2 linked regions of the Homo sapiens genome follow. The protein of the gene in region 1 interacts with the protein of each later gene in a biochemical or structural test. Each region holds a gene or a part of one and is shown on either strand. Other genes may lie near its edges.

Region 1 (3,819 bases):
AAGGAAGCCAGTGTGGTTGAGGAGAGAGCAACAGAAGATGAGGTCGAGTAAGTAATATTGGTGCCTTGTAGGCTCTAATTAGGAATTGGGCGGCTGGAAGTGGTGGTTCAGGCCTGTAATCCCAGCACTTCTGGGAGGCCGAGGTGGGCGGATCACGAGGTCAAGAGTTCGAGACCAGCCTGACCAACATAGTGAAACGCCATCTCTACTAAAAATACAAAAATTAACTGGGCATAGTGGTGCGTGCCTGTAATCCCAGCTACTTGGGAGGCTGGGGCAGGAGAATCGCTTGAACCCAGGAGGCAGATGCTGCAGTGAGCCGAGATTACACCACTGCATTCCAGCCTGGGCGACAGGGTGAGACTCAGTCTCAAAAAGAAAAAAAGGGAATTGGGCTTTTACTGTGGGTGAAATATGGGGCTGTTACAGGAAAAGGAGATGCTCAGATTTAGATTTCTCTTGTGTTGTGAGTATCCCACAAGGAGGCAAAGATAGAAGAGTTGGAGACTTTTTCAGTCATTTAAGCAAAAGATAATGATGGTTAGGATTGAAGTAGTAGTAGTAGAGATAGTGAGAAATTACCAGATTATAGGTCTGTTTTGAAGGTAGGGCTATAAATGATACGGTTCAACAAAGAAGAGGGTAGACAGTGGTGAAAAGGCCAAGGACCAGAGAGATAGGAGGAGCCAGCAGAAGGAGATTGAAAACGTTATTGAGGCCGGGCTAGGTGGCTCCCAGCACTTTGGGAGGCCAAGGCGGGTGGATCACTTGAGACTAGGAATTTGAGACCAGCCTGGCCAACATGGCAAAACTCCGTCTCTACTAAAAACACAAAATTAGCTGGGCATAGTGGTGCACGCCTGTAATCCCAGCTACGCAGGAGGCTGAGGCAGGAGAATTGCTTGAACCCAGGAGGTGGAGGTTGCAGTGAGCTGAGATCACCCCACTGCACTCCAACCTGAGCGACAGAGCGAGACTCTGTCTCAAAAAGAAAAAAGAAAAAGAAAAAAAAAGTTAATGAAATAATGAAATAAGCAGTTACAGAGGAAAGAGAGAGCAAGAGAGCTATGATCCTCATAGTTTAAATAAGTAATTTTTCAAGGTTCTTTTATTTTTGTATATATGAAGTAGAAATTTAATAACTTCTGTAGCTTTCCAGTTACTGTTTAATGTACATATTTTGTTTACGAATATGTTTAAATGTTGATGGAAATTTTTGAAAGGGTTTAGAAGAAAATGTTGTTAGTATTTTTAAAGCCTGTATTAAAACTCAGTTTTTGTATTAAGTGTTTTGAAAATCTAAGATCATGGTTTTAAAGAATCCATATGATTTCTTATGGCTTATATTTTAATATTCTTATTTGTTTATGACTACAAATATGTCTATGACTGATAGTGTCCTACCTTAATCTCATTAACATGCTTTCACATTGGTATGTGCATATATATGATCATTCTTCCATTTTCATCCCTGTGGAGGTGGAATAAAGGATGATGGAATAAAATACTATTCAGACTATCTAATTGCTTAATTGATGAGTATGTGTTTCAGAGTTGTAGAATTTAAATTCTGTGTAATTTTCATTGTGGTCAGTTGTAAAATTTCTAAATATTTAGATATTCAGAGTGATAGGCAACCCTACCAGTCAAGGGGTGCTCAGTCAAGATCACCAAAAAAAAAATCATGCAGGATGTTCCCAGCTGACCTGGGCTACAGAGAATGAACATGTGTGTGACCAGTGAGGGCAAAAAGGAAAGAACTCCTCCTTCCAGGGTAGTTCATTTGGAGGTTGTAATTACAGTCTTGATTCAAGTAGGGACTGGGCTCAGCAGCTAAGCCATTTCTGTATCTTCCAGCAATCAGGAATTAACCATTGATTTTTGTCTTTGCCGTGGCATTTTACTGGGTTTTTTATTTTTTCTTTCTTTCTTTCTTTTAATTTTTAAGCTGCTCAGGGTAGACAGAGCTACACTCTTGGCCCAGATTGAGGGAGGGGGTACGAGGCTCTGTAAAGCAATTTCTATATTTTGTCTTCGAATTAAAAGATATTTCCCGGCCGGGTGCGGTGGCTCACGCCTGTAATCCCAGCACTTTGGGAGGCCGAGGCAGGCGGATCATGAGGTCAGGAGATGGAGACCATCCTGGCTAACACGGTGAAACCCTGTCTCTACTAAAAATACTAAAAATTAGCCGGGTGTGGTGGTGTACGCCTGTAGTCCCAGCTACTCGGGAGGCTGAGGCAGGAGAATGGCGTGAACCAGGGAGGTGGAGGTTGCAGTGAGCTGAGATGGCACCACTGCACTCCAGCCTGGGCGACAGAGCAAGACTCCGTCTCAAAAAAAGAAAAAAAAAAGATATTTCCCTGGCTGGATGTGGTGGCTGACACCTGTAATCCCAGCACTTTGGGAGGCCGAGGTGGGTGGATCATGAGGTCAGGAGTTCGAGACTAGCCTGGCCAACATAGTGAAACCCTGTCTGTACTAAAAATACAAAAATTAGCCAGGCATGGTGGTGCATGCCTGTAGTCCCAGCTACTCAGGAGGCTGAGGCAGGAGAATCAGTTGAACCCTGGAGGTGGAGGTTGCAGTGAGCCAAGATTGCGCCACTGCACTCCAGCTTGGGCAACAGAGTGAGACTTCATCTCAAAAAAAAAAAAAAAAAAAAAGAATTTCCCTTAAGGGATATCAATTAAGAAAGTCTTGTTCAATACAGAGAGCTTTCTTTCACACTAATTAGTCATTAACTAATACACTAAGAAATCTTTGCTTTGTCACGCTTATGAAATGCTTGGGGACTTAGAAATCTGTCTTCAGATTTGGAGCTCTGTGGCAGCAGGACTTCAATAAGAAATAAGAGGAGCTGATGAAAATGGAAGACTATTTCAGGTCCATTTGATTCTATTTTGGGCAATTAATTCACTCTGTGACCATGAGGAAAACATTTATTTATTATGTAATTTTCTAAATACCAGTTTTTTTCTTTCTGTCTGCATTTACAGGTAATGTTTGAAACTTACCAGTTTTCCGGTGTATATGTAGCCATCCAGGCAGTTCTGACTTTGTACGCTCAAGGTAGGTTAAGCTTAACTGTTAGAAAAAACACTTCATCAAACATTTATTATGTATGTTTTATGTCAGAGAATTTGGTTTCTCAATAAGTTATAAGCCCCAGAAAACTACATTATTTATATACCACACTTTGAAATATTTTCAGTTTTTAAAATTTGTGAAATAAGATTTTATATACATTTTTATTTGCTAAATATGTATTTAAGGTAAAAAAAAAAGGCTTAAAGACTTATTTTTTAAAAAATAGGATATTCTCTCTTTTAAGCTATTTAAATTTTTTTTGAGACAGATTTTCGCTTTTGTTGCCCAGGCCGGAGTGCAATAGTGCAATCTTGGCTTACCACAACCTCCACCTCCTGGGTTCAAGTGATTTTCCTGCCTCAGCCTCCCAAGTATTTGGGATTACAGGCATGTGCCACCACACCTGGCTAATTTTGTATTTTTAGTAGAGATGGGGTTTCTCCATATTGGTCAGGCTGGTCTCAAACTCCTGACCTCAGGTAGTCCGCCCGCCTCAGCCTCCTGAAGTGCTGGGATTACAGGCATGAGTCACCGTGCCTGGCATAGCTATTTTAATTTTTTATGCATGGAATTTGTCCCCAGAATTGGCTTGAGTTAAAAAAAATACGCAGAGATTCAAAAAGGTAGCATAAAATCATGCCTGTCAAATATATAGTAGATTAAAAAGGAGAAGGTAAACATTTGGGAGTGCATTTCTAACTTTTGAGGTGGGTTTAATGGAGGGGACTA
Region 2 (3,819 bases), on another chromosome or scaffold:
CAGTAATAATGAAGAAATGGCAATCAAGCAAGAAAGTGGTGGTGATGGGGAGGTGGAGGAGTACCTCTCCTTTCGTTCTGTGGGTGACGGGCTGTCCACCTCTGCTGTGGGGTGCGCATCAGCAGCTCCGAGGAGAGGGCCAGCCCTGCTGCACATCGACCGACATCAGATCCAGGCAGTAGAGCCTAGCGCCCAGGCCCTTGAGCTGCAGGGTTTGGGTGTGGACGTCTATGACCAGGACGTGCTGGAACAGGGAGTGCTTCAGCAGGTGGACAATGCCATCCATGAGGCCAGCCGTGCCTCCCAGCTCGTTGACGTGGAGAAGGAGTATCGGTCGGTCCTGGATGACCTCACGTGAGTGCAGCCCATCTTCTTCCTTTCAAAGTGGTGGTAAAACATGACAGGGATATTCAGGTAATGGAAAGCTCTAGTATTCCAGAAGTTTAGGAGATGTGTAGAACCTTTTATTTGGAGGACAGAGTCAATAAGGGCAGTCCTCAACCTCATCTTTGAGTCCCAGCCCTTCCCCTTAGGAGTGGCATTGTACATGGTAGTTAGAGTCTCTGTCCAGCTCGTGAAAGCCAGTTGCATGCATAATGTCCAGAAGAGAAGGGCTGTTCACCAGCATGTGCACAAAGTGATCTCAGGAGAGGTGCACCTAAATTCAGGTGTTTCCTATTCGAGATGCCAGGAATACATTGCGCCCCCTTCACATTTTTCTCTGTGCGGTAGCTTCTTTCTAGCTTACTGTCCCCAAACTTAGTGTTCAGTCCTTGGGCAATTTTTCAGATTTGCATTTTTAGAAATAATAAAGACTCCCCGGTTTTCTTTTCTTCCATCCTTGTTCTGACTCTGGAAATGGAGATTTTATTTGTGTCTTAGAGAGGGAGAAGACTTGAGCTGTTTTGAGCATAGCACGTTAATGGGGAAGAAGGGGAGGCTGTAGACCTGAGCAAGGGTAGGAGGTGAGGACAGGAGAGGGGAAGTGGGAGGGGTTGAGCTCACTTATCATTGCTGCTTGGCCCCCGTTGGGCAGTGTTCTGGGCAGTGTCAGGTAAGCAAGAAAGAAGGCGAGGGCTGAACGGGATGGAGGATGGAGCAGTGTCACAGAGGATAGCTGGGGAGGGTGGAGTGTGGCGCTGTCATGAATGTGGTTGTTGGTACTTCAAAGACATGTTTTCTGCTAACCATTCCCTGGTGTGTTCTTTTGGCCTCCTCAGGAGCAGGTGCTCGTTCATGGTTATAGTCTGAGTGTTGAGGACCTCAACTCTTTGTAATGATACTTTTACATTTGATCTTGGAAATGTGTCCTCTTTCTCCAGAGGTGACAGAGGAGAGTTGTGGGGTCTCCATGCAGAGTGATGCTAGATGGCTGGTGGCATGTGGTGTCTCAGCCAGTAATACGCATTGTTTATCCTGTAATCCACAGAGGATACAAACAGCAAATTACACAATCATCAAGAAGATTGAATTTGTGTTTTGAAAATTGGAAGCTACAATTCTATGGTGTCTATTTTAGGAGTAATTTATTTTAAATTGATTTGTTTTCTTTGCACCACAAAGTTTAGTGCTGTAGTAAGTGAATCTTCCATTTATGTAGAAGAAAAATATTGTCGCAGATGTGTGATTTATATAAAAAAATGTTTAAGCATATTTAGGATGCTTCCAGACTTTGGAAGGCTTCCGTAACGGGCTTAAAAAACCCATGTATGCATTTTTTCATGTAAAAGGACAACTTATTGCACATTGTTCTAGCATAGTGTGTTGAATAAAGTAGGCACTTAAATAATGCTTGTAGAATGACTGAAGCAGCTTACAAATGGGAATGAGCTGATCTAAATCAGCTAGATAAAAGAAAACACTAGCAGTCATCTTAAACCTCTAATGATCCTACAAGTTTTATTTGTGGCCAATAAGGGTATGTATTCTGGTTTAGTTTCCTTTATCTTTTAGTTAATAAGAAGTAAAAGGGACATGTTTTTAGCATTTTTCTCTTTATATTATGCTATAAAAATGTTATCAGAGTGCAAAATAGACAATTTATCTTATTTTTCAGGTCATGTACGACATCCCTAAGGCAAATCAATAAAATTATTGAACAGCTTAGCCCTCAAGCTGCCACCAGCAGAGACATCAACAGGAAACTAGATTCTGTAAAACGACAGAAGTATAATAAGGTGATTCAGAATAACATTCAGTATTGCATTTTTGAAAAAGTCATCATTTAGGGGCACTTAATTTAGGAAGTATTTTAAAAAGTGCTTATAAGATGTGAAGCAAATACTTATAATTACAATAGAGAAATTTTGGGTTTCTTTTGTATGTTTAATCTTTCTGCTGTTTTCCTTTAACATCCCATTCTATTGCATTTAAAAAAACACACATACATAGACACACACATCCATACGTATACAGTTGCTCCTTGATTTACAACAGGGTTACATCCCGACAAACCCATCGTAAATTGAAAATATTGTTAGTCAAAAATGCATTAAATACACTGAAAAACCTATCTTAAAGTCAAAATATTGTAAGTCAAACCATAGTTAAGTCCAGAGGCTCCTCAGTTTATAATGGGGTTATGCCCTGATAAACCCATCACAAAGTTGAAAAATTGCAAGTCAGACCATGATAAGTTGGAGACCATCTGTGTATTTGAGAAAAGTTCCTTTTTGGTGTTGCTTGCCTCACTTGGGCGCACTTCCTTAGTTTTCCTGCATCACCATTTCTTTGGCCTGGCTTAGGGTCACACTGGCCTCAGTCTCCTGGTCTCCTGTGAACTCTTTTCTGCTTAGCCCTTGCTTCCTCTAATTGTCTCCACTCTGTTTCTTGGTGGTGCAGCCATTGACCCTCACACACCTTTGCTGACAGTTGCGAGAGCTTGGCCCTTCCTCCCACCTTGGGTGTTACAGTCAGCACCCAGCCACACTGGGGTTGTACTTAGCTTTGGAAAACTTAAGGGTAGGGAATATTTGTTACTTAGGATATTATTTTTATGAAGTTTGAAACTTTTTTTAAGGATTTATGTACAGCTTTGTGAGGTCTGAAACATTTTTTATGATTTATGTACCCCTTTGTGAAAATACATTGCAATAGATAGGAATGACTAGCTGTAACCATTTCAGTTCTGCCATCCCAACTTGTGCTTACAGTTGATTCACTGCAGTGAGTAGAGTCCTTGCATCTTTTCTTTAAGCTCTCCAGGGGCAGGGCTGTGCGTTGGTTCAGTTCACGTGGCCCTCCTTTTATTATACTTTCCACTCACCAGTCTGTTACCTGCACTACCCCATCTTCTCTCACTTGCTTCCAGAATAGCAGCCCAAAGGTCAAAGCTAGCAGTTGCCCAAGGCAGGTGGGTCCTCCCAAATCAGAGAGAGGACATCTGGTCTCTTGTGGGAGCATGTGAAATTGATGTGCAGAGACCTTCTTGGGCTTCTAGTGGGCTGGAATTTCAAGGGTGTAGAGCATCAAACTTGAGACCACTTCAGGTCCTAGTCTAACTTAATTATGCATTCTTGTCTTTAGCAGCTCTTTGATGGTTAGAGGTAGACTATTCAGAGGGAAAGTGCTTTAGACAGAATGTTGCTGAGAGAAAAACTGAGAAAAAACAAATTGCAAGTCATTGCAGTGTGGCATTTATGTTCAGGATTTCCCCTTGTCCCACACTCGTATTTGAAGTTGAAACATTCTTGACCTTGGAAAGATGAACCAGGTACCACAAGCCCAGTTCATTGGGCCTCCCCAGTGAAGCCCAAGGGCACATATCTGAGTTCTGGTGATGTGGAAGGGAACAAGACAAAGAGGAGTCTGGCGTGGCCA

The links.
Region 2: the proteins of ACTR2 (region 1) and ERCC6 form a complex in vitro, tested with the Homo sapiens proteins (one large-scale study listed by BioGRID).

The regions. Positions count from the first base shown.
Region 1 is NC_000002.12:65,248,028-65,251,846, forward strand, and holds part of ACTR2 (actin-related protein 2), read left to right. Parts: intron 1-2,999; coding exon 3,000-3,072; intron 3,073-3,819. UniProt on the Homo sapiens protein: ATP-binding component of the Arp2/3 complex, a multiprotein complex that mediates actin polymerization upon stimulation by nucleation-promoting factor (NPF).
Region 2 is NC_000010.11:49,529,078-49,532,896, reverse strand, and holds part of ERCC6 (DNA excision repair protein ERCC-6), read left to right. Parts: coding exon 1-354; intron 355-2,056; coding exon 2,057-2,177; intron 2,178-3,819. UniProt on the Homo sapiens protein: Involved in repair of DNA damage following UV irradiation, acting either in the absence of ERCC6 or synergistically with ERCC6. Involved in the regulation of gene expression.